2 separate regions of the Homo sapiens genome follow, and region 2 is linked to region 1. Evidence: fine-mapped expression QTL. A gene starts in region 1. The other region holds a variant in brackets. All regions are shown on one strand. Distances are from middle to middle.

Region 1 (16,387 bases):
GTAAAATGTAAAAAGAAATATATCATAAAATAAAAGATTAAGGGGACTTAATAGAGGCAAAGGCAATAATAGGAAACAAAAAAATTTCTTCCCTAACACAAAGGTTTGACTCTGTAGACTGAAAGTCACTAAGTTCCAAAATAAAGAACTCACTAAGCTCCAAACTAAAGAACGGGTAACAAAATATACATAACAATAAAAAAGAAACTCTTAACAAGTAGTCTGGCAAAAAGAACATGTTACCTACAAAGGAAAAGAAAAAAACAGATTGGCATTTGAGCTTATACAAGAAATCAGAGAATATCACCCAGAGAACTTAACTGAACAAAAATACTTAAGAACGTATCAGGCAAATACAAATGATCCAAAACTGATACATTAAGATAGAATGTGATACAGAGAAGAAGCAACATAAACACTAAACAATGACACACTGTTGGTGGGACTGTAAACTAGTTCAACCACTGTGGAAGTAGGTGTGGCAATTCCTCAGGGATCTAGAACTAGAAATACCATTTGACCCAGCCATCCCATTACTGGGTAGATACCCAAAGGATTATAAATCATGCTGCTATAAAGACACATGCACACGTATGTTTATTGTGGCATTATTCACAATAGCAAAGACTTGGAACCAACCCAAATGTCCAACAATGATATACTGGATTAAGAAAATGTGGCACATATACACCACGGAATACTATGCAGCCATAAAAAATGATGAGGTCATGTCCTTTGTAGGGACATGGATGAAGCTGGAAACTATCATTCTCAGCAAACTATCACAAGGACAAAAAACCAAACACCACATGTTCTTACTCATAGGTGGGAATTGAACAATGAGAACACTTGGACACAGGAAGGGGAACATCACACACCAGGGACTGTTGTGGGGTGAGGGGAGAGGAGAGGGATAGCATTAGGAGATATACCTAATGTAAATGACGAGTTACTGGGTGTAGCACACCAACATGGCACATGTATACATATGTAACAAACCTGCACGTTGTGCACATGTACCCTAAAACTTAAAGTATAATAATAATAAAAAAATGACACAAATAATTAAATCTGAATGAAAAGCAAAAAACATTAAACTGACGGAGGCAGAATGGGTGAATAAAAGAGTTTCAAAAGTCTCATCTAGAAGTATGAGACTGAGAGAAGGAGGAAGTTAAAGTTTCCTAAAGATCTTATTTTATAAGGAAGAGAAGTAGAGGAGAAGAGAGAACCATGATTTAAAACACAAACATACATACACAGAAAGAGAGAGAGAAAACCTGGGTGAAAGAAATCATTTTATTTTCAAATAGAGAAAATACATGTATGATTATGAGAACATGGAAATGGAAACTAATCATTAATGTAAAGAAAAGTATAGCGCAACTTCCAAAATTAAGTATCTGGGAAGGTTTTGCCTGCTCTGAATATCATCTTGCTAAGCTAGTCACTTGACATATTTAATTTAAAAAAAAAGAAAATTAACTAATTTATAAATAGAGCTTTAAATGTTTCAGGGATTTCAATTTATTTTTGAAAGTCCTATTGACTATTTAAGAGAGTTCAGTGCCAAAGTGAAATGCAAGAGTTAGAAAAATTAGGTTTGGGTTTAAACTTTTTAACTTCAATTAAACAACCTAATAACCAGGAACTTTTATACAGGTCTATATCGTTTGTGTACTCTAGGGCCTTTCTTGAACATCAAAATACTCATACAGATAGATACAAGAAAGGCCCACCTTGGACTCCATCCCAAAGGGCTTAATTACTAAAATACCAAGAAAGTCTTGTACTGGCATGCCTCACGGTTAAGACAGATTCATTTCACAGATTATGAAGACAGCCTAATGGCTAGACTCCATTACTGCCTAAAATGTTCTGAGATTAAGGGATGTTCATATCAGACTTTGCTGATTACTATTAAATTCACTGATGAGAGTATGTTGGGTGAATGTTATACTTACTGTTAAAAGAATATTTTAGAAGCTTCTACACAGCAAAGAAAACAATCAACAAAGTGAAGAGACAACCCACAGCAAGGGAGAAAATATTTGCAAAAAGGGATTAATTACCAGAATATATAAGGAGCCCAAACAACTCTATAGGAAAAAATGTAATAATCCGATTTAAAAATGGGCAAAAGATTTGAACAGGCATTTCTCAAAAGACGGCAACAAATGGCAAACAAGCGTAGGAAAAAGTGCTCAACATCACTGATCATCAGAGAAATGCAAATCAAAACTACAGTGAGAGATCATCTCACCCCAGTTAAAATGGCTTATATCCAAAAGAAAGGCAATAACAAATGCCGGCAACAATGTGGAGAAATGGGAACCCTCACACATTGTTGGCAGGAATGTAAATTAGGCAACTACTATGAAGAAAAGTTTGGAAGTTCCTCAAAAAAACTAAAAATAGAGCTACCATATGATCTAGCCATCCCACTGTTGGACATATACCCAAATGAAAGGAAATCAGTCTACTGAAGAGGTATCTGCACTCCCATATTTGTTGCAGCACTGTTCACAATAGCCAAGATCTGAAAGCAACCTAAGTGTCCATCAATGGATGAATGGATAAAGAAAATGTGGTACTTATACCCAATGGAATACTATTCAGTCATAAAAAATAATGAGATTTAGTCATTTGCAACAACATGGTTGGAGCTAGAGGTCATTATGTTAAGTGAAATAAGCCAGGCACGGAAAGACAAACATCACATGTTCTCACTTATTTGTGTGATCTAAAAATCAAAACAATTAAACTCATGGACACAGAGAGTAGAAGGATGGTTACCAGAGGCTGGGAAGGGTGGTGGGGGCATAGTGGGAGGCTGGTGGGGATAGTTAATGGGTCCAAAAAGTAGTTAGAATAAATGAATAAGGCCTAGTATTTGATAGCACAATAGGGTGACTATAGTCAATAATAATTTAATTGTACACTGAAAAATAATTAAAAGAGTATAATTGGATTGTTTATAAAACAAAGGGTAAATGCTTGAGGGGATGGATATCCCATCATGAGGGGATGGTTACCCCATCTTCCATGATATGATTATTACACATTGTGTGCCTATATCAAAACATCTCATGTACCCCATAAAAATATATACCCACTATGAACCCCCTAAAATTAAAAATAATTTTTTAAAATAATATTTTAGGGGCTAAACTAAATCCCAGATGTTTCTTCAAGGTTACAAAACAATATAAGTTGTAGCTTTTTGGGCAAAATATACATCTTTTTTGACATCATAAGTAATAGGTTATTAAAGATGTGGTGCCTTTGAAAAGCCACACAGTATAAAATGGGCCTGGGTGTGATATGGTATTTATGGACATACAGTTAATTGGGTTTTTTTGTTTTGGTTTTTTTGTGTGGTTTTTTTGTTTGTTGAGGTTTGTTTGTTTTTGAGATGGAGTCTCATTTTGTCACCCAGGCTGGAATGCAGTGCCGTAATCTCAGCTCACTGCAATCTCTACCTCCCAGGTTCAAGCAATTCTCCTGCCTCAGCCTCCCAAATAGCTGGGATTACAGGAACCCGCCACCACACCCAGCTAATTTTTGTATTTTTAGTAGAGACAGGGTTTCACCATGTTGGCCAGGCTGATCTCAAACTCCTGACCTCAGGTGATCTGCCTGCCTCAGCCTCCCAAAGTGCTGGGATTACAGGTGTGAGCCACCATGCCCAGCCTCAGTTAATTGTTAATACTACCTCTCTGTACTTCCAGGATCATTAAAACTGGCTGGGAAGCCTGAAATCAAGAATTTCTGCAGAAGATAAAAGAACAGGCAGAGTAATAAAAACAGAAAATCTTGAAATTGTTTTATGGGCTTCCAGGGGAAATGAGCCATTAAAAGAAATCATCTAGATCTGATCTGATCGCCTGGGCCTGGGAGTTCAAAGCTGTTTTGAGCCTAGAAGATGTACAATACCACAGTCAAGACCCTTACTACCTACTTAGACTGCCACAATAGCTTCTAACTTGTGGCATCCTTCCAAATAAGATAACTGGTCCACGGTCCAGGGGTTGGGAACCCCTGAGGTAGAGGATGAATAATGCAACCAACCAACGAGTCAAGTGCATGAAGTATCATTAGTTCTATAATGCTATAAATCAATAAAGGCATTGTCCCCCCCAATTAAAATATGTTCACCAAATCATCCAGTTTAACTAAAGTCAGAACTTTCTCGTCACTTAAAATGAATTGCCTTAATAATGGAGATATACGTGAAGATCAGCGATCTGGGCATCTACAGATCGTGATCAAAAATATGGTTCAATTAAGCACTATATCATCTCTGTAGCTGCTTCAAATTATATGTCATATTTGCCAGGCTGTCTATCAGCCCATAACGTGGTATTAGGGAAGTCTAAACAAAATCATATGATAAACATTTCTACCTTCAAATGCCAAAGAACTAGAACCTTTCATGATTCCTAGGTGTCCTAGAGGTCACATTTTTTAAAAGTCACATTATTGTGTTCATTACTTCATTTTTATGATGGTCACATAATCTATATGTCATTGATGCTCATAACCTCCTCAAAAAAAAGGAATTTCAAAACTTGAGATATCAGCTGTAGCCTCTTATAAGTTATCACTTAGCAGAAAATAGCATTTAGCAGAAGATAGCCCCAAAAATCTTTCATTAAAGTCTTCACTTTCAAAGTCAGTTACATCTGGGTTCAAATTTTTGTGCTACCACTTGCAAAATTTTGCTCCACCATGACAAATGTGGGCTGTGTGACTCTCTGAGCCATAAATTCCTCACCGAGGAAATAGGAAAAATGATACCTGCTTTATAGGAGTGATAAGCAGTTAACTGATACACTGTATAAAGCATATATATGGCCTAGTACATTACATATAACAATTTCTAAGTAAAGTTTTTCTTTCTTGATAGAATTAAAACATTTATGTTTTTCCTTTTCTGCCTTATATTCCTCCTTCTTATCCAGGGATGGATTTTTCTAATCATCTCTAGGAACTATTTTATTCTAAGGACTAAATATTCTAGTCTAATAACTATTTTACCACAGTGACAAGGTAGGTAATAATACCGACTACAAATAAGAAATCAGAAAATGAAAGATCTGTGAGTCAATGGCAGACAAATTTAAACTACCACCATGAAGGAGACCGGCAACTTCCCATAGTGAAAGAGTGTTAATAAAAAGGATCCTTTCCTCCAACTGAGTCCAAAAATAAATGCTATTTCAAAAGCTACTGGACAAACATTAACTTGTCTCTGAGACTACTTCCTCCTAAAGCAGATGGCACCTGGAAGCACCAGAAGCCTACATTCTAGGTGTGGTATGACTTTACTCTCTTAGCCATGGTGCCTTAAGTTACACAAGAGCAGGCTTTTAAGAGTGCATTTAAAATGTAGTTTACAAGCTATTCAGGGAAAAAGAAAAGTGCACAATCTTTTGCCCTCATCTCAGCTATGTGTGTGTATGTGAATGGAAATGTAACCAATACGACAGCTTGATGTCACATGTATTTGCAGAGATTTTTATAAAAACACAGTAAGACATTTTTAAAATTATTACATTGATTTTACAAAAACAACTGTCATACCACACTGAGTCTACTATTTGGTCCTCCCAAGGTTACAGCTGCAACTCCTATCCGACCCTTCCCCTTCCACACCCATGCCTCCATTTTCCTGTAGGGCATCTCGGCAGGAACACCACCACGAGGTTGTGAAACCACTCTGCTGCCACATTTCCTCATGCCTCACTGCTGAATGCGTGAGAGACACTACATGAAATTGGGCCTTGCCCAGACCTCTTTGTTACATTTGTAAATAAAATCAGATCAAATCACAAAGATATAATTGATTTAGGAGAGCCATGGTGCTATTCAGATAGGAAATATAAACAGAAGAGAAATGCCCTATGGTATCATAGTTTCCTTAAACAACACATCACTAGCTCAGTTTCTCAGAGTGAAAATGCTGTCACATACTCCCAAGGAAAAGAAGAGCTCATCCTTACACAAATTTGCTTTTAACTGTCAAAAGAAAATCCCAGAGAGACGCCCACTGCCTTACAAGTAAATCTAGGATTACAGTACCAAATCTGTTATAAAAACAACAATGAAATAAGTTCCAAGTTGTTTCTTCCTTTGACAAATACCCAAATAACTTCCATAATTTGAATACCAGGTCAAAAAGTTTTATTACAAGCAAAACAAATACTTCAGTCCTACTCATTGTTAGCAAGACACAAACCATATTAAAAAGCAGAACATGTGACTAACAATTAGCATACCTTGGAAGGGAAGGGACTTACTCAAATTTGAAAGGCTAGATAAAATTATGGGAAAATGAGACAAAAGTTCAGACAAAAAATAATCATATGCTAATAATTCATTTTTATACTCTGAAAATTATTCTTTTAAAATTTTAAATATACTTCTCATTTATTTGAACCCCAGAGTAAAAAATTTAGTGAGGGTTATCAAGAGTTCCCAATATTCAATCCCTTCCATCATTTAACCTAGACTTTAAAAAATAAAATTTGTGGATAAAGAAATCCTTTGACTCGAGAAAAGGAGAAACTCTTTTTCAGCATTAAACACAAAGACAGTATCTGATGAAAACAGTATATTCACCTATCCAAGTTCTCATAGGTAAACTTATAAAAGATGTTTAATTGCACATGTGAGTGGCAGTGATAATATGCAGCAACAAACTTCAAACTTCATCAAGAGATTTTTGTGATACTCAAAGGTATTACATCGCTAACTCTGAAAGAAAAAGAAAAGCCAGAATAAAGCCCCCTAAAATTTGCAACAGTACAACAGAATGAATGAAACATTGGTTCTGTTTTCACAAACTGGTTAAGACATCTTTCTTCACCACAGACACTAAACTGAGAGCTGCTTCATCAGGAGGCATCCTCTAAAAACTTCAATTATGAAGTTACTAATACTACCAGAGATTCAAAAACCAAGAGAGATTTGGGGGAAAGGGGGCATGAGATACAAGATCAGAGACAAGGGTAAAGATCAAAGCCACAAAATAACCAATCTGTACTTAATCGGAATTTTTCATACCCATGCATAAGGCAAACAAAGCAGGCAGGCAGGCAGGCACGCACACACACACACACACACACACACACACCACATTCCAAGAAAAAGAGGAAGAAAAATCTATTAGATACAAATTCAGATCAAATCTATTTGATACAAATCAGATACAGGAAGGGGTAGTAGTTCATTATGAGTGTCTACTTGAAATTCCTGAAAGGCTACTACAAAACCTGTCTAACACCTTCTCCTCCTGGCGTTCTAACAAGTCCTTTAAAATGCATTTTACAAGTTCAGGGCAAGTTGTGGAATGAGGAGTGCTATATACAACTCAAAACCTGCTCCCTTGAGCTCCAAACCTTCCCCCAGAAAACAGAAAGTCTTATTGGAAAAAAGACCGAAATGCAGAGAAGAAAAAGGGGTGCGGGTGGGGGTAGGGAGTGGACAGGACAAAGGAACTGTGAATTCCATAATCACCTGAACTTCTCTTCCCTTTCTTCCTCTTCACAGTCAGTCACCTGGATTATAACTTCAGACTCCAACCAGAAGACACTGTCATCCCCTAAAGTGCTACTCTCACTTTCAGTCTCCATCTTGTACTTAAAAAACAAAAAAAACTAAACCTCCAGGCATGGAATAAAAAGCACCAACATTCAGGTTGTTCAGCTCTACTCATGTATACTCAGATGTGTGTCTGGTGCCCTAGTGACAGGTACTGGTGCTGGTTTAATTACAGTCAGGGTACAGACAGGAAATCACAGGCAGCACAGTCACTGCGTCTGACTGCCATACTGGTGACACCTAGACCCTCCCACTGCCTTAGGCTGCGTGACCTACATAACCAAAAGCAGAATCTAAATGAAGGTGATTTTTTACTAATTATTCTGTAATAATGACTCTTCTCAAAGTTTCCACTTAATAAGTTAAAAATAGGTATTTTCAAAATGCAGGCTTTATTTGTATCCTTTTTTGATCTCGGACTCCAGAAAGGTAAATAGAAAACTAGAAAGAATAACACCATCCACTGGCCAAGCACATGAGAAGCACAGTTATAGATCTCACAGTTAAGGAGGCTCACAATAAGTAGAGAAGATAAGTATGCTCTAGGGACCTGCCTAGGTTCATGCCTTCCAATATTACACCCATCTTTCCTTCCTCTCAGTAAGGACTGCCATATGCATCTCTGCTCAAGTATCCAGAGTGAGACATAAAAGCTGGGCTTGTCCACAGTCCTTGAAAGAAAAAAGTTTAAGTGTCCCAAGTTCAAAGATGCTGACAATCACATCAAATAAAAGCATGCAAAGTTTTACACATTTAAACTGCAAACAGTCATGGTGGCAATAAAATGACTTGCTGGGAAATGAGTGAAAGGTATAGCATCTATGACTGTCAACAACACAACTGTTACTTAGAAAAGAGCCATGTTGACAGAAACTACTGACCTGCTGGATATTCATGGCTATTTGTCTTTTACCAAGCAGCAACAAACTGCAAAGCCCTGACTTTCCACTGTATCTGATTTAATCAAAAATTAAGAAGACATCTACTGAAGTCTTCTTGAATTTTCATATTTGAAAAATAAAGAGCCAAGCACAGTGGCTCACGCCTGTAATCCCAACACTTTGAGAGGCTGAGGTGGATGCATCACTTGAGCTCAAGAGTTCAAGACCAACCTGGGCAACTTAGCGAGACCTCATCTTTATGGGGGGGGGGGGGGGGGGGCGGGAAACAGCCAAGTGTGGTGGTGCACCCTGTAGTCCCAGCTACTCAACAGGCTGAGGTGGGAGGATCGCCTGAGCCTGGGAGTTCAAGGCTGTTGTGAGCCATAATCACGCCACTGCACTCCAGCCTGGGCAACACAGCAAGACCCTGTCTCAAAAAAAAAAAAAAAAAAATATATATATATGCAGGTCCCTAGAGCATATAATATATATATTATATATAATATATATATATTATATATAATATATATATATTATATAATATATGTTATATATAATATATAATATATGTTATATAATATATATAATATATGTTATATAATACATATACAATATATATTATATATAATATATAATATATATTATATAATATATAATATATATTATATATTATATATTATATATAATATATATTATATAATACATATAATACATATATAAATTTTAAAAACTTTTCAAAAAAAATTTTTTAAACCAAAAACAACAGAACAACATTATAAGCAAAGTCAAAATGCAAACAAGTTGAGAAAAAAATATTTGAAACATATCACAAAGGGTTAATTTATTTAATATATAAAAAGTTCTTAAAAACTTCTAAGACCCAAGAGCTCAAAAGATAAATAGGCAAAGAGCAAAAATATAATACTCAGAGATAAACATAAAAGAAACTTAAAAGATGTTAAAAGTAACTTCACTGATAACAGAAATGTAAAACAATACATAATAAGATGACTTTTAAAAAATCTATCACATAGGCAAAGCTTTTAAAAGGTTTTAACAAACTGAAAGAGGACATGGGAAAAGAAACATGCCTGTCAGTGGGAGTTTAAACTGGTACAACCTGTGTTCAGGGCAATTTAGCAAAATCTACCAAAATTCAAAATGCACATCTTTTTGGCCCAGCAATTTCTCTTTTAGGAAATTATCTCACTTTCACAAGTAGAAGTAAGAGGCAAACAGGAACATTCATTCTGGTAGACATTATAGTAGCAAAATAGGATAGCAAAAACAACCTAACTTCCTGAGGAATAGAAAACTAGGCAAATTACAGAATACCCATAGAATGGAATGCTACACAGTGAGTATATGAGAAAACAAGGCAGCCCTACAGGTCACAATACGGAACAAAGCCTAAGGAATACTGTTAAGGCAAAGAAGAAAGGGGTAAAAGTATAGGGCAGTATGTGCAGTATGCTATGCTGCCATCTGTGTTTTCAATGAGGAGTTAGGAGAAACAAATGCAGACTATCTATGGAAGAAGAGGATCAGTACTAGTACCAGTAGTTGTCTCCACGGAGGAAAACAGACAGCTGGAGAAGAGGAATAAAAGAAAGACACGCTTGAACCCGGGAGGTGGAGATTGTTGCAGTGAGCCGAGATCACGCCATTGCACTCCAGCCTGGGCAACAAGAGTGAAACTCCGTCTCAAAAAAAAAAGAAGAAAGAAAGATAGTTTTTCACTATGTCATGCACATATAATCCTTACCAAAATATTAACTAATTTTAAATAGAATCTTTCATGACCTTCAGTAAAGAATTGGATTTTTAAATATTATTTCATTAAGAATCTAGTTCTTTTTTTTCTAAACAACTCTAACTCCTTCAAAGTGTTGTTTTTTTGTGGGGGGGGGGGTTGTTTTGTTTTGTTTTGTTTGTTTGTTGAAACAGGGTCTTGTTCTGTCACCTAGGCTGGAGTGCAGTGGCACGATCTCGACTCACTGCAACCTCCACCTCCCAGTTCAGGCAATCCTCCTGCCTCAGCCTCCCAAGCAGCTGGGATTATAAGTGTGTGCCACGACACCTGCTAATTTTTGTTGTTGTTGTTGTATTTTTAGTAGAGATGGGGTTTCACCATGTTGGCCAGGCTGGTCTCGAACTCCTGATCTCAAGTGATCTGCCTGCCTCTGCCTCCCAAAGTGCTGGGATTACAGGTATGAGCTACTGTGCCCGGCCTCAAAGCGTTTTCATGAATCCTATTCACCTTTTCTTTTAATCATTCTTTTGTTCTTTCATTATGATGGTTGATTTCCCTCACTTCGAGCCTTTCAAAAGTGAAAACGTGAACTGTGAGTGGTATTTTTACACAGAATACTGAAGGACAGTTAAATGTGCACATCTTCCGAGGCTTGTTCTGTTTTGACTCTGCCATCACAAGTTTTTTAAAAATGTTTTTCCTGCCTCAGCTTCCCGAGTAGCTGGGATTACAGGCACCCGCCACCACACCCGCCTAATTTTTTATTTTTAGTAGAGAAGAGGTTTCACCATGTTGGCCAGGGTGGTCACAAACTCCTGACCTCAAGTGATCCACCCGCCTCGGCTGGAGGTTGCTGTGAGCCGAGATCACGCCATTGCGCTCCAGCCTGGAAGACAAGAGCGAACCTCCGTCTCAAAAAAAAAGGAAAAAAAGTTTTTAAATTCAAAACCTACATGTGTTTCTGTTTTCTGTTCCCTTCTCCAGTAGTAAATGAAAATCCAGCGGAATCAACAGGTGATGGTTAACAGCGGGGGCAGGGATGGAACACAGCCGAGTCCATCACTCTGGCTACCAGTGTGTGAGAGAGACTAGATACTGCTGAAGACCACAAGGTGGTTTTAACTCCTTTTCTTCCTGATTTGTTTAAACCCTGATCAGCCTTCACTTTCCCAACAAGCTTTTATGGAGCTGAAGTCTTTGACTGAAACCACAGGAGTCACCAGCAGTAATTTCGAACTAGCTGGTTCTCATCTTCTACCTCCAAGAGGTAGGGAACCTGAGGGGAAGGGAAATAGCTAATCCCACAGCAGCAAAGAGAGAAGCATTCTTACAGCAACAATTTAAACACTGCAAGTCAGAATGAATTTTTTCGAAGAGAAACATTGTTAAAAGTGCTGACTTTCCTAGTAGCAGTGGTAAGTAGTAATAATCACAGCAACAGAGTTGGCCCACAGGTTCCGTATGCATGGGTTCTGCATCCATGAATTCAACCTCTTGGTTGAATCAAAAATACTCAGGGAAAAAAGAGGGATGGTCCTATCTGTATTGAACATGTACAGGCTTCTTCTTGTCATTATTCCCTAAACAATACTGTATGCCAACTATTTACATAACATTTACATTGATAGTTATTATAAGTGATCTAGAGATGATTTAAAGTATGAGAAGATGTGCATAGGTAATACGTAAATACTACAACATTTTATATAAGTGACTTGAGTATCTACAGATGTTGGTATCCACAGGGTGTCCTGGAAACGATTTCCCCATGGATACCAACTGATGACTGCATATGCTGAGCACTGACTCTATATGCCAAGCATTGGATTAAGGCCCAAACATAACGAATTATATAATTCTCCCAACCACCTCATGAGGCAGGAGCCATCATATTACAGGTGAAGAAACTGAGACTTAGCATCATAATTTCTCCAGGATTATCCAGTTCATAAACTTGCATTAAAAATACTTTTCAGGCCAGGATCAGTAGCTGATGCCTGTAATCCTAGCACTTGAGAGGCCAAGGCAGGGAGATCACCTGAGGTCTGGAGTTCGAGACCAGCCTGTCCAACACGGTGAAAACCCGTCTCTACTAAAAATATAAAAATTAACCTGGCTTGGTGATGCATGCATGTAATCCCAGCTACTTGGTAGGCTGAGGCAGGAGAATAGCTTCAGCCTGGGAGGGAGAGGTTGCAATGAGCCAAGAGCGCGCCACTGCACTTCAGCCTGGGTGACAGAGCAAGACTCCATCTCAAAAAAAAATAAAAATACTTTTCAAAAATCCAAACCTAACCACACCATATGAAATGTTACTTCTGTGGGAAGACTATATGGTTTGCATTTTGGTCCACATTCCACTTATTAGCCTAGACGTCTCTGATCTCACAGTTTTTTATTTTCTCCTTTTTGGGGGATGGGCCATGATACTGCTGAAATGCTGACCTACATCTAATTCTATATCCAATACCCGTTATCTACATGGCTGAATGCAGTATACATTTGGGTTCACTATCAGGGGAGGGGTATGGACAGGATATCACACAGCAAAACAATAGCAAAGCAGTAGAACCAAGATCTTGATGCTCTGACATCGTTGTTCCTGTTCTCCCATCATAATAATTGTTTTTTTCAAAACTGTTCAATACAGTGCATGGCACATAGCCAAGGGGTCAATAAATGTCTCCTTAATTGGGCACCAAGCTTTGTCCACAGACTGCTTCATGAATATGAATATAAATATAAATATAAAATTTCTCAGAAAATTTTGTATTCTAAATGTGAATAATGTGTGCTCTGTGTAATATATATGTATGTATCATATAATTGTATCAGAAAGAAAAATTAAGCAAGAATCCTTCTAAAATATTTCCAATGACTGAAGATTTTCCTCCAAATGTATGGAGCACAATATATATAATGTAAAAATGTCATTCATCATTATTCATTTTTATACTATCTATACATTCATTCAAAATTTAGATTTTTTTATAACAATCATTTTTGTAGGCGTTTCCTCCACTGAAATAATTAACTTTGAAAAAACAACTCTTTCCTTCTTTATTATGGAACACTGATGTATTCTGGATCATTATATATACATTGACATTTGGTTTAATTCACAATGGTATCTAAAGAGGAAACAATTCTTATGCATACTATGGCAACTTTATTTCATGAAAATATCAAAAATAAAGAATCCAGTTAATTTAATATGATTCTCTACAGGTAACTTTAAACATAACAGAAAAGGTCTACTTGAATAGAAAACTGACAATTTCATGTTAGAGCAGATTTTGCTTCACTAAACACATGTATTCAAAGGGAGATCTAACTTTCAACTGTTCATAGAAGCTAAATGATATTTCTATAAAAAAGTTAAAATGGCTATCTTAAAATACATCATCACCATTGCAAGGATATATGAATAAAAATCACTTTCAAAAAGCTGTTCTTATAAAACCAGAAAAAATAGAAATGGAGGTACTGTATTTTGAAGTCAAACAAGCTCAGACTCAAATATCAACTATGTCATTTACAAATAGTGTGGTCTTAGACAAGTGATAAGGTTTGGCTGTGTCCCCACCCAAATTTCATCTTGAATTGTAGCTCCCATAATTCCCATGTGTGGTGGGAAGGACCTGGTAGGAGACAACTGAATCATGGGGGTGGTTTCTCTTAAACTGTTCTCATGCTAGTGAATAAGTCTCACGAGATCTGATGGTTTTATAAGGGGCACCCCTGTCGCTTGGCTCTTATTCTCTCTTTGCTGGCTGCCATGTAAGATGTCCCTTTGGTCTTCCTTCATCTTCTGCCGTGATTTTGAGGCCTCCCCATGCATGTGGAACTGTGAGTCAATTAAACCTCTTTCCTTTATAGATTACCCAGTTTCATGTATGTCTTTATCAGCAGTGTGAAAACAGACTAATACAGTAAACTGGTACCAGTAGTGTGGGGCACTGCTGCAAAGATACCCGAAAATGTGGAAGCAACTTTGGAACTGGTTAACAAGCAGAGGCTGAAACAGTTTGGAGGACTCAGAAGAAGAAAGAAAAATGTGGGAAAGTTTGGAACTTCCTAGAGACTTGTTGAATGGCTTTGACCAAAATGCTGATAATGACATGGACAATGAAATCCAGGCTGAAGTGGTCTCAGATGGAGATGAGGAACTTGTTGGGAACCAGAGTAAAGGTGACCCTTGCTATGTTTTAGCAAAGAGACTGGTGGCATTTTGCCCCTGCCCTAGAGATTTGTGGAACTTTGAACTTGAGGGAGATGATTTAGGGTATCTGGCAGAAGAAATTTCTAAGTAGCAAAGCATTCAAGATGTGACTGGGTTGCTGTTAAAAAGCATTCAGTTTTATAAGGGAAACAGAGAATAAAAGTTCAGAAAATTTGCAGCCTGACCATGCAACAGAAAAGAAAAACCCATTTTCCAAGGAGAAAGTCAAATCAGCTGCAGAAATTTGTAAAGTAACAAGGAGCCTAATGTTAATCACCAAGACAATGGGGAAAATGTCTCCAGGTCATGTCAGAGATCTTTGTGGCAGTCCTTCCCATCACAGGCCCAGAGGCCTAGGAAGAAAAATGGTTTCATGGGCCAGGCCCAGGGCCCCCTGCTGTGTGCAGCCTAGGGACTTGGTGCCCTGTGCCCCAGCTGCTCCAGCTATGGCTAAAAGGGGCCAAGATACAGTTTGGGCCATGGCTTCAGAGGGTGCAAGCCCCAATCCTTGCCAGCTTCCACAAGGTGTTGAGCCTGCAGGTGCACAAAAGTTAAGAACTGAGGTTTGGGAACCTCTACCTAGATTTCAGAGGATGTATGAAAACACCTAGATGTCCAGGCAGAAATCTGCTGCAGGGGCGGGGCCCTCCTGAAAACCTCTGCCAGGGCAGTGCAGAAGGAAAATGTGGGGTTGAAGCCCCCACACAGAGCCCCCACTGGGCACTGCCTAGTGGAGCTGTGAGAAGAGGACCACCGTCCTCCAGACCCCAGAATGGCAGATCCACCAACTGCTTGCACTGTGAGCCTGGAAAAGCTGCAGACACTCAATGCCAGCCTGTGAAAGCAGCCAGGAGGGAGGTTGTACCCTGCAAAGCTAAAGGGGCAGAGCTGCCCAAGACCATGGGAACCGACCTCTTGCATCAGTGTGACCTGGGTGTGAGACATGGTGTCAAAGGAGATCATTTTGGAGCTTTAAGATTTGACTGCCCCACTGGATTTTGGACTTACATGGGCCCTGTAGCCCCTTTGGTTTGGCCAATTTTTCCCATTTGGAACAGCTGTATTTACCCAATGCCTGTACCCCCCATTGTATCTAGGAGGTAACTAACCTTCTTTTGATTTTACAGGTTCATAGGCAGAAGGGACTTGCCTCATCTCAAATGAGACTCTGGACTGTGGACTTTTGAGTTAATGATGAAATGAGTTAAGACATTGGGGGACATGACTGGTTTGAAATGTAAGGATACAAGATGTGGGAGGGGCCAGGGACAGAATGATATGGTTTGGCTGTGTCCCCACCCAAATCTCATCTTGTATTGTAACTCCCATAGTTCCCACACGTTGTGGGAGGGACCCAGTGGGTGATAACTGAATCATGGGGGTGGTTCCCCCATACTTTTCTCATGGTAGTAAGTAAGTCTCAAAAGATCTGATGGTTTTACAAGGGGAAACCACTTTCACTTGGTTCTCATTCTTTCTCTTGTCTGCTCCCACATAAGACATGCCTTTCATCTTCCACCAAGATTGTGAGGCCTCCCGAGCCACATAGAACTGTGAGTCCATTAAACCTCTTTTTCTTTATAAATTACCCAGTCTCGGGTATGTCTTTATCAGCAGCATGAAAATGGACTAATACAACAAGCAACTTAAATTGAGTCTCAGTTTCGTAATCTCTAAAATAGAAAAAATAATACCTTTATGATGTTAATGTATAAAATAGAAACAATGCATATAATGAAACTATAGTAGTATACAGTACAAAGTCCTCAATAAATTATAGCCATTGTCATCATTATCATCCCTGAACCATAAAATGTTTTCATTACTGTGATTATAGAAAAATTGAAAAAAAATCTTAATCTGTAAATCTCTGGCTTTTAAAAAATATAATCACTCTGTAATTTTTATTATTATTTAAAAGAGAGT
Region 2 (16,387 bases), 99 kb after region 1:
TAATGTCCTTGTTCTTGCCCAAAACACTCCAGGGCCCTGTGCTTCTAATCACACTGCAATAAAATCCAAAGTCCTTTCCCAGCCTTTCAAGTCCTTTCAGCCCTGACTCACCAGTTCAGTTTTTTACCTTTTGCCATTCACTCTGCCTCAGCCACACCCACCTCCCTCCTGAGGTTTCTCAGACCTGCCAGGAAGACTCCACCTTCCTGGCTTTTAAATTAACCTTCCTACTACTATATAAAATAGTTCTGCCTTCTCTGTCCCCTTACTCTGCTTCTTTTTTTTCTCATAGCACTTATCACTACATGATTATGTTGTGTAATCAATATTTATTATTGGACTCTGTTCCTAAAATGTAAGCACCATGAGGGCCTGGACTTTGTTTATTCACAAATGGGTATGTTTATGCCAAATGAATACATAAATGGTACTATCAGGGTGCAAAGTCTTTATACACACTTCTTACCTGCTGTTGTGTATTGCCATGGATCTATCTTTATACTTAGTACAAGTGGAAACAATTGCAAAGTGTAACATTATGTAATTTAAATTTCCTGTACTTTCAGCTCTGACCTCTCCCCAGCCCTCCAGCCTCATATATTCCACAATAAAATTATATCATTTGCAGTGCACTGCAAGTCAAATCAAGACAAACTATACTGAAAATCTAAGAAAATATCAAGATTCAGCAGAGAAAGGTACATATTACATGAGGAATTTAGTGCCCGTAGGACAAAATCACAGTCTAACCTTGCAATTAGGTTTTAATATGTAGAAATTAAAGGCACAGAAAAAGCCAAATTATATGAATTGGCTTCTCAATCCAAACTGAAATAATCACCATGGTGAGAAAGAACATAAATTTTAGGAGGACAAGTTTCCCTTTCATTTTTTATCTTATCTCACTATGTAGTCTTGGACAAGGCAATTAACATCTGTTTTCCCATCTGTAAAATGGGCTTGCCCGCTGTCCTCTTTAGTTGGGTATCATAAAGATAGAATGACTTAATTATTATAAAAATGTTTTAGAAGAAAGGAATTTTGCAAGTGAACAGTGATTATTATTACTTTCCAAACTTCTTTGTGTAATATTTTGAAAATGAGGAAGAAATAATATATTTTTTCAATGTGTCTAAAGACTGAAGTGAATCAGCATTTCTAAATCATGCAGCACTTCCAAAATTATCAGAAAAAACTTTTGGAAGTCGCGAAGCAACCTGTAGAGTCACCCAAGTATATCACCTACCATGGGAGGCTCTATATACTGAAGCATTAGGAGGAACAACACGTAATCCATTTTATAGTCAGAGTGCACTATGATCAGGAAGTGAAAGGAATAGCACGGAAATGCAAGCATTTGTGTAAAGTATTAATTCCACTTCTTATCAAACAATATAATGTGGAGATCCTTGAAAGAATGAATGAACAAAGAGGCAACTATAACATTTCTATATATGACATGCTTCAGGGCAGCAAAATGTTTGGAAGGAGAAAGAGATCTAGGGGACTTTTTGAAGCTCTGTCTCCAGCAAGCATGCTGCTTTATTTAGAGCGTATGTTTAATTGAGGTGACTTGGAGGAAGCTAAATCTCCCATTGGTGGCTGTGACAGTGGTGAGAAGTTGCTATTACTCATAAGCGCGCACACACACACACACACACACACACACACACACACTTTACTGTAAACACATTGAATGCTCCACTCCTCCCTCCAAGCTTGGCCTGAATCAGCACTCTACTCAGTGATGCTCCCAACCCCAAAGGCTTTTATTAGATCTAAAGAACTGAAACCAGTGTTGAGGAAATGCATGGGAAAGTGACTTGGGAAAGCTAGAGATCAAAGAGAGGTCACTCAACTCCAGGGTGGCTGCTTTCCCAGGGTGCTCCCAGCAATTCCCCTCCCACGATTTTGTCTTTTATGGCTTCCAGTTTCCAGAACTTAATGCATCTCAGAAGGTCTAAAACATCTGTGTTTTTCTGCTATATTCAAAATACTTGTTGGCGGAGGATTTACCGATGTCTCTGACACTGCATGCAGTGATGTGATGTTTCCTGGGCAACTTAAGAACTGTAGTAGGTAATCCTATAAGGCATTTTATTATTTTTTAAAATCACTTGTACTTGGCTTGGGAAGTTATCTTGTATTTAACTTTAAGCATAGATGATCCCTGGATATACTGAGGGCTAGGGGACATAATGTGTCAGACAAAATAATAAAACTACCCTATCCAAATATTATTCTCCTGTTCCCTACTTAATTTTTTCTCTTATGTATTTCATGCTGAAAACAAACAGCATTACTCCTCAGAGTGATATAAAAGGCCAGTCTCAGGCAGAGCTGATAACAGACTCAAACTGACTCGTTGACTCCTGCTTTCCCCAGTCATGGTCTGATTTTAAAAGTACTTATCTGTAGTTCTTGATTGATTTAAAAAAAAAAAAAAGCAGCAACTCCCTTACTCATGGTAACAGAATGCTCTGTTAAAGAATACTACAACAGTGATAGGTTGGGTCAAATAGTTGAGAAAATTATAATTTAGGCAATGCAGAGTTTTCTGTGCACCTTTCAAAAGAAAACTTAGTGCTTTATCAAATATGAGGCACTATTAATTTTGAGAGAAATTCAGGCACAGAGAGATTCAAAACCTATCTAAAATTCAGTCTATGCTTTATGATAATAAAAGAGAGATATCTCTTTTTTGTAAATATGTGTTGATGGCCAGGTCACACAAAACAAGACGATACTTTTTTAGAGATGGGGGTCTCACTGTGTTGCCCAGTCTCATCTCAAATGCCTGGGTTCAAGCGATCATAGCTTGGATTACAGGTAGGTACCACGGAAGCCAAGGCAAGAGGATCACTTGAGGTCAGGAGTTTGAGACCAGCCTGGGCAACATAGCAAGACCCCATCTCTAAAATATATAAATAAATACAATTTAAAATATTTTTAACGTTATCCGTGCATTTCTGTGCATCACAGGAGAAAGTCCACCAGAAGAGTGCAATCCTTCTCCACTCTCTTTCGTCCCCTTTACTACTGGAGGGGAGAAGACAAAGGGTCCTTACATTTACATTTCCACCACCGCCTCTAGTTACCATACCTGGGGCAGTTGGCTGTAACTCTTTCCATGCCCACAAGAACACAGCATTAAAAACAAAACCACATTCAAGTACAGTGACTCCAGCTAAGCTGTGGCGTGTTGATTAGCCAAACCATTGGCATTTCACATGCCCAGTCCTTGCTGTTCTTTGATGGGCAAGTAACCCCGAAGAAGAGAGCAATTTTTCCATCGTCACCCATTTTATAATTACTAGCCCTGCTTCTGGGCTGGCTGTCACATCCTACACCTCCCCAAATCCTCTGGTGCAACTTTTTGGGAGAGTTAAAACCTCCTCGATGTCACCTTGGTACTATAATGATGTCCTTTGACAGAAGAAACAAAGTCAACCACCATGTTCTCCCTGAGAAGTTCAGGAAAGTTTGATTCTTCCTTTTCCAAAGGAGAAAAGTATCTTCAAGGAGATGACTAAATCTTACTCAGAAGCATCCTTCTTCATTAAGTTCTCATCTGTATGGTACCATGCTGGAGGCTGGGCAAAGAAAAGCAAATAATGAGACCCTTCCATTTCTCTATGCTTTGGGTTTAAGATCGACAAAACCCACAAAAGCTAATCTCCGAGTATACAGACATCAAACAGCTGTGCAAACATTGGACAGATGCATAAATTAAATACAAAAGTAAATAAAGTATTTACATTATGTACAAGTCATGCAGCTGCTGTTACTACACTCCACGAAGGCTCCAGAGGGAAGGAGGGACATTAAGCTGAGCAGATTGTCTTTTTCGGTCGGGGATGGTGTCAGCAGGAAGGAGCAGAAAGGTCACACATGGCTCGAGGAACAAAGACAAACTGTTACATAAACTCTTGTCTGCTGGTGCACAACCTCTAAACGTAGTCTTCAGAATGAAGCAACTTTGTTTCTCAGAAATAACTTTTATATCTCAGACTATGCTTTTAGGAATCTGTGTCAGTAACTAATTTTAAAGTGTCAGGGATGGCCCCATGGCCAGCAACAGCAGGAACCCAATGAGATGACCTAAGAGATCACAAGAACTGTCCTACCTCAAAGACTACCTTGATATTCTACATGTGTCCAGGGTGGGAGAAATAAAATGAATGGCAGTAGCCCACTGCCATTGGAAACTCTGCCTGGTATCCTGCTGCTGTGGAAATTTCCTCAGTCTTCTCTATGGAGGAACACAGGATGCAGCGCAGCTTTGTTTAGCCTAGATTCCCATACTCTACACCTGGAACATAGGACACATGAATGATTGATGAACTACTAAGCAGCTCATGAATCTCTCCTTACTTTAGGAGATAAAAGGGAGGATAGCCTTTTGTGTTTATGTTAAATTAAAATACCATTTTTATTCAGAGTAGCCTGTATAGTGTTCTATATTTGAGGAAAACAAAAAGATTTAAAAAGAGAGAAAACAACACAAGCCCCTGGTTTAAAAAAATTAGAAATGGCAGTAAAATGGAAAAATTCATAACTACAATTCAGAGGTAATCATTATTAATATTTTGGTACATATCTTCTACATGTCTTCATGTACATGGATATATATAAAAAATTTTAACAGAAACAAGATCATACTGAAAATAATGCATGCAATCTGCTTTTTTCCCCTTAATGCTTTTTAAACTTTTCTTGCCAATAAATATTTCTACATTATTTGTATATAATCATATGTCTATGCCATATTTTTTTAGTCCCCTGTTGTTGGACATTTCTAGTGTCATGATTTTTTTTTTTTTTTCTCTAACTTGTAATGGCTGGTGGAGCAATCTTATCACTAAAGGTGTGTGCACAACACAGACTTCTGAGAGTCAGAATTCTTCCCACACCCACCGGCTGATACTTAGAATTCCATGCCTAGTGCCTCAGTCCTTTGCCTTAAGGATTTTGTTTAGTTAAAAAGTGAGTCCCAGGAGAGCTGTTTCTTAAAACACTATCTGACACTGATTTCCCATTTTTCCTTGGGAAGTCCCGAGGAGAGTCGCAAAGACTGGTTTTATGCTGAGGTCTTGGCCCTGGGCCTTGGCTGATGAAACCAGAAAAGTCCCCAAGTTCACGCATGTTCTGGTAGAACCGTTACAATTTTATAATTGACTAAACTCCTTGAGCAGTTGGGAACACAATTAATGCTGGCTGGTACTAATTATTGCCTAAATTCAGTTTATTATAGGAAATAGGTTCAGTTCTTAGCATATTCCCTCAGGACCTGGTCCACATATTCATTAATTTTTACTCCCAAATACTTTATATTTGTATGGTTTTCTGTAAATATAAATCTATTTACCTTGTAGCCTATCTTTATTACTGCATGTTCATTGAATTAAACTTATTCAGACCTCAATTTTTCATTTCACTTCTAAGCAATATAACTGTGATCAGTCATATCCCAGAATTCAGGACTGGTACTGTAATCCCCACAGAGATGGTATAGTTCTTTTTATCTACAAATCCAGGATTTTCTTTAACCCAACACACATGTCTGTGAGGTGTGTTATCACAGTATAACATACCTGGTTACCCTGTGAAAAGCAGAGCCCAGGAAGAGTGAAGGTTCCTGTTTCTATGCAACCATAGGTATGTACGTGTGTGTGTGTGTGTGTGTGTGTGTGTGTGTGTGACAAAGAGAAGAAGAGAGAGACAGCGAGAGAGAGACACACACACACAGAGAGAGAGAGGGACAGAGAGAGAGAGAGAGAGTATTTATCTGGAGAATAGCTGTACATCTCCAGGGACCCAGGATCAGCAGTGTCAAGGTCTACCAGGTGCTTATGAAGTGCTAATTGCGCTGTTACTGAAGTTCAGTTTCCACCAGAGACTCACAGAGCGACCTTGGGGAAATGATTGAATGCTTCCATTCCTCCAATCTCACACCTGAATACCGGGGATGATAATATTGCCCAACTCCTTCCCTTACAATGGCATAAGAATGAAGTAGCTTACAGTTGGTGTTTTGAGAGTCTGTGGGAGCATTATTACTTCATGCTACCTTTTTTATATGTAACTTTTGTGCACTCAACCATTAAGGAGGGACAACTGTGCCACGGATGTTTCTTTTCTACGCTGCTCTCTTGGGGAGAGTGTCCAACTGCTGAAACTTACGTATGAAAAACGAGAGCAAGAGAGAGACAGAGAATGAGAAATCATAACCTCCCACTCACATATATTTGGCATTTCAAGCTTTGAGCAATTAATAACCAACTCCTTGACTTGGAAGCTGTCATGCTCACAATGCTGTTTGAACTGTTCCCACACAACCCACTGAACACACCTTCCTTCCAGAAAAGGCTGTCGCAGACGCACTTTTCAGCCTTGAAAGACAAAAGAGTAGACTTGAGCAAACACGAAGACTTTCATAAAATGGAGTAAGGACGAAAGTCTCTAACTCCAGAAGACCAGTATTTCTAAGCAAATAGTCCAGTTGTTTCCTGCCATTCTGAATGTTTCTGCCGTTCTGAATATGTCTGCCATTCTGAATGTGTTCATCGGGAATTTGAGTGTGGGTTATCTGGATCCCCTTCCTCTGACATGCAGGACCTTGTTGCACCACTGGGAGTTCCACAGGAAAGGGAATGAACAAGGGAGAGTCTTTAATAGAGAATTGTGAATATGTCTACAGCCATACCACCCTGAACGCACCCGATCTCATCTGATCTCGCTAGCAGGGTCGGTCCTGGTTAGTACTTGGATGGGAGAATTGGGAGTAAGAAGAAAATAACTACAGCCTGCACTTCAAAGAGCAGCAAGGGCCAGCAAAAGGAGCCTGAAGGGACCGAAAAGTTGAGCATAGCTGCGGATAGAAACAGAGCCAGTGGGCAGAGACAAGAAAACCAAGGCAGGAAACTGTGGGGTCAAGAGCAATAGGGAAGCCTGTCCCTATTGTGGGTCCTGGGTAACCCTGGGACACATCGACTGGCTCTTCTTTGCTTATAAGGCAGGGTGTATAGGAAGACTCATTACCTAGCGCTAAGGAAGGACGGGTAAGATGTAAATAAACCACGCTGATTTGCAGCCACTCGGGAGTCTCTGGCAGCTAGGCTGGGAGAATAGCATCAATGTTAACAGCTAGGGATGAAGCAGAGTAAATATTTGATGTAAGATAGCAAACATAATCAATAACGTGTATCAAACATTTTCTGCTCCTTCTAAAGGTTCATGTTAATTATAAATATGACAGTATTTGGAACAATTTCAAGTAGATAGAATCATCCCTGCTTTGCAGCCCAGAGAACTGAAGACAAGGGCTAAATAATTTGCCTAACATTATACAGTAACCAGTAACACTGTGTTTTAAACTCAGGTCTTTGTGCCTTCAGAACCCCAGTTCTCCTCAAACTTGAGAGAATTAGGCACACACGTTGCTCCTCTTTCTCAGATATTCTGATTTAGTAGTTCCAGTGTGGAGCCCGGGGGTCTGCACTTTAACACGCATCCCTAGTGGTGTCGACATAGGTGCCCTAAGCCAGACATTCCAAAACACCATCCTCCACCAAAGGCCAGAAACAGCCAGCTAGGAAACAAGGGCAGAAATAAAATTGTAGGAAAAAGTGTAGAAGAACTTTCACCCTTAAAATC[G/A]TAGACCTGATACCCTATGGTAGTCCTGATAGTCTACTTATTTTTTTTCTCAAAATACGTGTTTCCAAAAGTTAACTCATTTGGTACCTAGAAAAATCAGGCTTCCTTGGCAGCTTAGGTCCTGTGGATCCTACTCCTTGTTGAACGCTGGGTTAGGACTACAGACAGATGTCTCCGAAACATCTTAGGACTGTACTTTAAAAAGCACTCAGGACAGGAACATGAGGAGAGATCATTTCTCAGATGTGACAGTCCCATTTCACTGGCTCTAACCAGAGTAGAACGAGAGGAAGGACTTGTCTTTCCAGCTATTCCCCAAAACGACTTTTAAACAAAGGGACCCGTTCTCACAATTACCCACCAAACAAAGTGCTTTGATAAAAATCACTACTAGGTTTCCCAACTGGGTGTCATTATCATGCATTAACCCGGCATTTCTCTTCCTTTGGTTAAACTCTTGAATTCCTGTATCAAGCTTGAGGGAGAGAAATCGGTCTTGCTCAAGATGTGTTTTCCCATCTCCCAGGGTCCCACCTTTAGGGCCAATAACTTTCTTTCTACCTAGATTTTCTTAAAGATGTTGAGAGATAGGATTCCAGTAAAACTACAGGAGCTGGCCGTAATTAGTTTCTTTGCAACGTTCATTTCTCCAAATGAGAGCAAAGGGGCCATTTGAATAACTCATTATCTACATTAGCTAGACATGTTCTTGTTGATGTCTTCTTAAACTTTCCTAAGTCTTCTCTAGCCTTTCTTTGCTGCACTTCCACTCCAGTTTGTCTGTAAGCGCCTTTGTGGCCTCCACTGCAGGCCTCGGGCCAAGGGAAAAACGGATTCTTTTCATCTATTCAAGTGTGATCTGGGACAGACAAGCCTGCTCCACAGGCGAGAGGCACAGAAGAGTGCTCTGTATTCAGCTCGCAGCTCCACATAGTCTGTAGTGGGGGCCCTGCCCTTGGCAAGGCCAAAGCAATGACCAGGGCCATTTGGCAGGAACAGGAATGCTGTTTGGCCCCTTCTCTTCACCTGGACAGGGTGCCCTGTCCTGCAGGAATTGTATATCCTATTCCAACTCACTTCCTCTAAGTTCACTTCCAACATTAAAAATCACCTCCTTTTATCTCTCAATCAAAGCAGCATTTTTTTTTTTTTTGAGATGCCGGGTAAATTCAGAGCACATTACGGTTGCTACATATGGAGATGGTTAATACAATAATAACTAATGAAACTTCCTTCCTGTCTCCAATACATAGGGGACTCAAGGCTGGAGATATTGGCAGGAGAAAGGAACTAGGTGAAAATAGAGATGGAGCTAGTAAAGATACCTTTCTCTTGTGTCTAAGTTGCTAAAAATATGCTTTTCCTCCAGTGCCTTTTAAACATTTTACCTCACAATAAGCCTGATAATGTTAAGCAACAGCGCCCACCATTCCATTACTCAACACCGTTCTGAAGGTGCTTCATGAGAAGATAAAGGAGCTACAAATATTGGTGAAGGAGCAGCAAAATTATCATTATTTGATTATAACATTATTATAATCAAATATGGAAATGCTTTAATAAATCTATTAAAAATAACCTAACAATACAGTAAGAAGTTAGGTTATACACACCAAAAAACTTTCTTATATTCCAAAAAATAACCAGTTGGAAAATAAAAACTGAAACAACTCCTATTAACAACAACCAAAAGGTAAGTTACCCAAGAATGTGTATTATTTAAATGAAGGAAACTATAGAACTCTGAGGAGAGGGAAAAACAGACAAGGTGCTGAATAGTTAATGTCAGTATTGTAAAGATGTCAGTTCTCCCCAGTGAAGCTATAAATGGAATGAATTCCAATCAAAATCCCAGTAAGATATTTTTAGGAAAAACATAATCTATTAACAGATAATTTTCAGAAAGGTAACATCCTGACTACCCAGCAAATATTAAGCTCATGTCAAAACTTTTATTCAACTCATTAGTTAATGAGGAAACCAGTAAGGTATTAAGACTGATTCTGAGAGTGTTTGAACAATTCATTTCTTATAAGCAATCTAACAAAGAAATGTTAGGATAAGATTGCCAAATTTGATTTAAAAAAACAAACAAACTGGTTATTGCCCAATAGACCATAACTCTTTGAGGTGATCTGTTTCAAATGACAGAAATTATCTGCATCTCTACCGGACAGAAATCTGCAACTTAGCAGGTAACTTCCGTACAATTTAGCAAGCACTTCACTTAGCAGGTAATTAGTCTGGGACCTTTAATCAATAGTAAACAATGAACTAAGTACATTTCCCTACAATCCTAAGGTGGCCTTTGTTCCCATATGACATTAAAAGGATGTGCTGCTTGCGCTCAACTTATTTCTAGAATTTGAATTTTTCTAAAAATTCTAAATTTCATTGAAAAAAATCAACTTGAGAGTCACTAGGTAATTTTTGAAAAACAACAGCAAACACAAAGGAAGAACAATTTGCTTTACTTATTAAAACAAGGCTGGTAATAAAAGGAGGAGGATGACAGTCTTACCTTCTCGAAATTATTGAAAGTCTGGCATCCGTTTTCAGCAGCCATCCCTGCTTTGAAACTTGGGCAATGGATATTTGCCCGTGCATAGCACGCTCTCATTCTCTCCCTCTCTCTCTCTCTCTCTCTCTGTTACTTAGAACTGCTGCCATCAAGAAAGCTGGCTCTCCTCTCTACCCCTTCCTCTACACCCAGTCCCACCATTTCCAATCTAGCTATCACTAAAGCCCTAATAGGTAACACTTTGGTTTATTACATATAGCCTCTGTTCAAAGCACTTCTACGTGCATCAATACATTAAATACTCAACACAAACCTATGAGGTAGATTAATTGTCATCCCCACTTTACAGATAAGGAAATTAGAACACAGAGTTGCTATAACTTAAGCAAGGTCACGCACCTGGGTTCAAACCAAAGTCATCCTTGCTGTGTATTATTATTATTATTATACTAACCACTACCCTCTGCTTCCTGCAATGGGCAAAATCAGGCTGCCTGCAAAAGTGGCAGATGGGCAAAAGAGTACATTCACATCTTCCCTCATTTCCGCAGGTAACAGAAAATAATGGCAGGTTCTTCCCTGTTCATAAAAAATAACTAGATGAAGTTGCAAGAAAATGTTTCCTGCCTTGAGGTCACTTGGAAGAGCGGTGAGATAAATTTAAGACAGGCTGGGCCTGGTGGCTCATGCCTGTAATCCCAGCAGCACTTTGGGGGACTGAAGCGGGTGGGTCGCTTGAATCCAGGAGTTTGAGACCAGCCTTGGCAACATGGTGAAACCCCATCTCCACAAAGAAATACAAAAATTAGCGGGGCATGGTGGCATGTGCCTGTGGTCCCAGCTGCTCGAGAGGCTGAGGTGAGAGGATCTCTTGAGCCTGGGAGATGGAGGCTGCAGTGAGCTATGATTGCACCACTGCACTCCAGCCTGGGCAACAGAGTGACACCGTGTCTCAAAAAAAAAAAAAAAAAAAAAATTAAGACAAATAGGGCCTTGCATCTAATTCAAAGGATATGTACACCCTGAATTTTACAAAGGCACAGACTGCGATTGAGTAGCACAGAGTAAGAAGGGTGGGTGGACACCGTGCCCCGGGTAGATCTCTGAAAGTTTCACCCTATTAAGGGTGTCCTGCAAGATGCATACAGCTCCACATGGACAGAACCCCTCTGTTTTTGCACTTAGGAGACTTCTGATATACAGACTGAAATAGGGTGTCCACATATCTGTCTTTTTATTTCCCGGTTTATCCCTTACTTAGTGTTGCTCTCTGAGAAAGGATGCATGAGCCTAACTAATGCGTCTGAAATGCCTTTATTCTATACTTACCCTTGAAGGCATAGAATTCTGGGTGGAAATCATTTTCCTTAGAACTTTGAAGGCATACACCATTGTCACCTAATTCTCAAGGTTGCTGTTGAGAAATCTAAAGCCATGCTCATTTCTGATCTTTTGTTTCCTTTCTCTAGAAACTTTTTAGGATTTCTTCTTTAAGCTTGGTGTTTTCATAAATCACGGTGTTGTTCTTTAATGTAGGTTTCCCCCAATCCATCTTGCTGGGCATTCGGTGTATTCTTGAATCTGGAAACTTACATTCCTCTTATGTTTGAAAGTTCTGGAGTTTGTTTTTTATTTCTTTTCTAACTGTGAAGAGAGTTCATGTTGGGGAGGCAAGGGCTCAGAGAATTTGAGGAACGTTTCATGATGGAAGCCAAGAGTCTGAATTAAATATATGACTGGACAGGTGGAGAAGTGGGCATTCCAGATATGCAGAGCTGTGGGGACAGAGGCATATGGTTAAGAATCAACACAGTCCAGGAGAGACAGTGGGGACACTTAAAAATCATGCAACAGGGAGAAACAAAGAGGGGTGTAGTGAGCCTGATAGTGGCTAGCCCTATGCTTAAATGGGTGCCTTTTGAGTGTGTGGCTTCTGATGCATAACGAAGTTTCCACACCAGCTGAGGGGCTCCCACACCTTCTACACTCATAAGGTTTCTCACCAGTGTGAACTCCCTCGTGCTGAATCAGGGTTATTTTCTGATCGAATGCCTTCTTGCAACCCTTACATGCAAAGGGCTTCTCTCCAGTGTGAATTCAGTGATGCTGAGTCAAGGCCGTGCTTAATAGATTCCCACACTCTTTACATTCATAGGGTTTCTTCCAAGTGTGCATTGCTGATGGACAATGAAGCTTGAGCTACAACTAGAAGTTTTCCAATGTTTGTTACACTCACAGAGTTTCTCCCCAGTGTGGAACCTCTGGTGCTAAAGGAAGACTGAGCTATTGCCAAAGGCCTTGCCACCCTCCTTACGTTCAGAGGGCGATTCTCCAGCGTGGATTCTCTGATGCTGAATCAAGGCTGCATCTGAATTTAAACCTTTCCCGCATTCTTTCCATTTAAATGGTTTATTTCTAGTGTGCATTATCTGATGCCAAACAAGTAATGTGCTGCATCTGAAGTCATCCACATTCTTTGCATTCAAAACTTTTCATCACCGTGACCTCTCTGATGTCAGTGGAAGTCTGCCATTTGACTGAAATACCTGTCACATTTTCCACATTCATAAGCTATCTGACCGGTAGGAGTTGTCTGATTCGTAGAGTTGTGTGCTGACGCTAACATTTTTTCCTAATTTCTCACACTTTCCCCTCTCTCATCAGCACAGGCCTCCTGATGCCTGGTGGACCCATCTGTGAAATCTCCCCTCTTTGACTTTATCTTGACCATCCAGTGACCTTGGGGCTGCTCTAGGCTGCTCCCAAAATCTAGGTGCTGGGGAGTATTCTCTGGCAGCCCTCCCAGTGTCAGTCGGAGGGATTCTGTTTCTTTGGACCTATGCTCCTTTGGAATTAGTCCTTCCTTCTCATTTATGGTTTCACTCTGAGATTCTCAGAGATAGGGGTTCCATGGGAGTTCCCCTTTCTCTAGCTAGGAGACCAGAACAGGATAGCTGAATGAAAAAGTCAGGGAAGCCACCCCTGCATAACGCTCCAGCATCACCTCTCTGTATAGGGCCCTCTGCACAGGGTCCTGGCTGGCCCTTTCAATCTGGTGAGGTATGCAAGTGCTTCCTCAAAGGTCACTGGCTCCTAGGCAGAGTGGTCTAGAGTATGGCTGGCATCCCCACCTCACACTCTCCTTTGGAGTTGGGAGAAGTAAGACCGGACCCTGAGTCCATTTCATGGCATCCACTGACCCCATGCGGCACAGACACAAGGAAAGCCCACTGAGGCCCTAATAATGCTTATGCTTTGGCTCCCGTTTAACCCAGTTCTTTGTCTTTATCATTGGCCAGAGCGCTGGAGGTGGGGAGGAGTGAGGGACATTTCTTACAGTCATCATGTTTGTAGCAGTCCTTCTCATCCAAATTAGACTGCTATTTTGAGGATTATTTTGGCATTTTTGGTGAAGTCTTTTCTTCAATTTAGAGACCCGTAGCAAATACCTATTTTCCCTTGCTTCTAGGAGCAAACTCATACCCATCATTCATACACAAAGTTGCAACATCTTTTTTTTTTTCCTCTTCACTTTCTCAATAGCTTTTGACCAAATGATATCCTGGAAGAAAACTGAACTGAAAGAATCAGGAGATCTGAGATTTCACCCAGAATCTGCCAATAATGAGAAAACCCTGATCTCATTTGTGCAAATTAGGATGATTTGCCTTTTCAGATTCCTTTCTGCCCTGGTTCTGTGAGTACTGTTCTCCAGTCACATGTCCACCGATGCCCTGAGCACCGCTAAGGAAGGCACATGATGTTCTCAAAAGCTCTTTTTCCTCCCAGCCCTCCTGCACTTGTTTAATATGGGCAGTGTCCCTGTTGGGAGCTACGTTAGGGATGCCAGTGACTCTCCCCTCCCCAGGGTTCTTGCAAATAGAATAAAAATCAAAATGCAGTCTGAATGGGGGTCAAAGCTCTCTAGTGATAGCTACACAAAGAATTTACCTCATTCTTATTTGGACCAGGGTTGGTTTCTGATTGACCCAGAATCCAAGTCTAACTATTTCCTTACCAAATTAGTCTCTTCTAAAAGAGAATCCTCACATTGCTATTTAGCAGTCTTTCTTCGTGGTATACCACTTCATCATTCAGAAGTCTTAACATTCTTGATAACAATGTGTAGTTATAATACACAAAGGTATTGGCTAATTTTCTCTAGCAATTTCAAATCAGAGATTTCCTCTTGGTCATTTTGTATCTTCTTCAGGTAAAAAAACAAAAACAAAAACTGTATCTCTACCTTGCCCAAATCTCTGTGAGAAGTAAAAGAAAATAATCATTCCAATGTTTTGCTATGAGGCTGACACCATTCAGATGACTGGCTGAAATTTTCACTTTTTTTTTTTTTTTTTTTTTTTTTTGTGAGACAGTCTTGCTCTTCCGCCCAGGCTGGAGTGCAGTGGCGCGATCTCGGTTCACTGCAACCTCCGCCTCCTGGTTTCAAGTGATTCTTGCGCCTCAGCCTCCTGAGTAGCTGGGATTACAGGCATGAGCCACTATGCCCGGCCAGGTTCTCTTTTCAACCAAGTGTTTTGTGTGAGTTAGAGAGGGCTGGAGTTCTTCCATTTAGAATTGACCATCTAAGCAGCACTCCTGCTGTGGCAGGAAAGAGGCTGAAGAGCAACTTGAAAGGTACATGTATCTTGAAGTTTTGAACAGAAATATTAAATATTCAGCCTATCTGTCCTGCAGTCCCTACCTGATTTAGAAAGCAAATTAATACCACCAGATTGACTAGGAGTAAATATCTCATCTGAAGAAATATTATAGTGTGGCCATGGTAATACAATACTTATTTGTAGCAACTAAAATATGTATCCTCTGGTATCCTCTTTGAGTGCTATGGATTGTTCCTAAAAAACCCCAAAAGTATTTTCAAATATTTTAGGTGATAAAAGTTTAGGGCTATGTTTGACTCCACATATTTTAATTCATGTTTGTGGATTTTTAAAATAAACTATTGGTTTCTTTTAACAATTAGTTTTCCTTATAAATATTTTTCATCAAGCATAAAAATTGTTTTACTATTTTAAAAAATAACAGCATACCACATAGTGGTCATTGTATGAAAATGGGCAATACTAAATGGGGGTTACATTAAGTATGCAAAGGAGGAGTCCTAGCATGACGTCTACCCTATACTTCTTGCAGATTCAGACCTGTCTGGGTATGTTTGAATGACCAGCCAAGCAGGTACCCAGAGGTCTAGCTGGCTAAGGCATTGAGAAGCTTACTTTAAATAAAGAGACCTAGAAATGCTGAAGCGGGGCCAGGTGCGGTGGCTCACACCTGTAATCCCAGCACTTTGGGAGGCTGAGGAGGGTGGATCACCTGAGGGCAGGAGTTCAAGACCAGCCTGGCCAACATGGTGAAACCCTGTCTCTAATAAAAATACAAAAAAATTAGCCCAGTGTGGTGGCTCATGCCTGTAATCTCAGCTACTCGGGATGCTGAGGCAGGAGAATTGCTTGAACCCGGGAGGTGGAGGTTGCAGTGAGCCAAGACCGCGCCACTGCACTCCCCACTGCACTCCATCCTGGTCAACAAGAGTGGAACTCCATCTCAAAAAAAAAAAATGCTGAAGCAGGTGACCAGCCCTGTTCTGACACCCCTGTATCATTGGAGTTCTTTTAAGTGCCAAGAACAGAATATCCTTAGAAGTGGTGTAAACAATAGGCAGATGTTCAAAGGCAGTTGGCATCTGGGGCTGGGGATGTGACAGGGAGGTCTGCCAGGCATCCAAGTGCTTCCCATTGATGTCTTGCCATCCTGTCCATGCCACTGACCACAGATGACTCAGCATTTCTAGGCATCATTTCCAGTGAAGAAGAAAGGACATTTGTTTCCACGTATCCCAGTTGCCTTCCGTTATGGTCTCTTTGGACCAGATTAAGTCACATGTCTATACCCTCACCATAAAGGAAACTAGGAAAGTAAGCATGTGGCACTTAATGTCTTTCTCATTAAAGGAAGTCTCCACTAGTAAGAAAGAAAGTCTGTTACAAACCTCTAACCAGGGGTGATATCCCATATCAGCCATAGAAAGTTGGTAAGATGGAAGAGAAGCAGAGCTCACAAGCTTGATAAATGAGCACCACAGGTCTGACCTGCAGAACTACTGGGCTCTCCTTAAGGATGAACAGATGGTTTCCCTATCAGGCTGCCTTTGAACCACTGCAAGATTCTTTGGGAGTACAGGTTTGT

Alleles and levels. Positions count from the first base shown, and alleles are read on the strand shown. Sizes are in standard deviations (SD) of each study's normalised expression.
For the expression in iPS cells of the gene that starts at base 7,764 in region 1, A is the low allele of the variant in region 2 and G is the other (moderate effect, 0.71 SD a copy in PhLiPS).

Evidence for each region.
Region 2: its variant is fine-mapped to the expression of ARHGAP32 in iPS cells (PhLiPS, PIP 0.95).

Annotation. Positions count from the first base shown.
Region 1 is chr11:129,184,562-129,200,948 of GRCh38, forward strand. It overlaps ARHGAP32 (Rho GTPase activating protein 32), which reads right to left and starts at 7,764. Exons shown (of 23, transcript NM_001378024.1): 1 at 7,522-7,764. The coding sequence starts at 7,637.
Region 2 is chr11:129,283,212-129,299,598 of GRCh38, forward strand. It overlaps LOC124902791 (a long non-coding RNA gene), which reads right to left and starts at 11,947. Exons shown (of 2, transcript XR_007062950.1): 1 at 11,507-11,947; 2 at 1,749-3,593. It also overlaps the pseudogene ZNF123P. RefSeq lists an enhancer at 1-321. The variant G/A (reference allele first, on the strand shown) is at 7,657.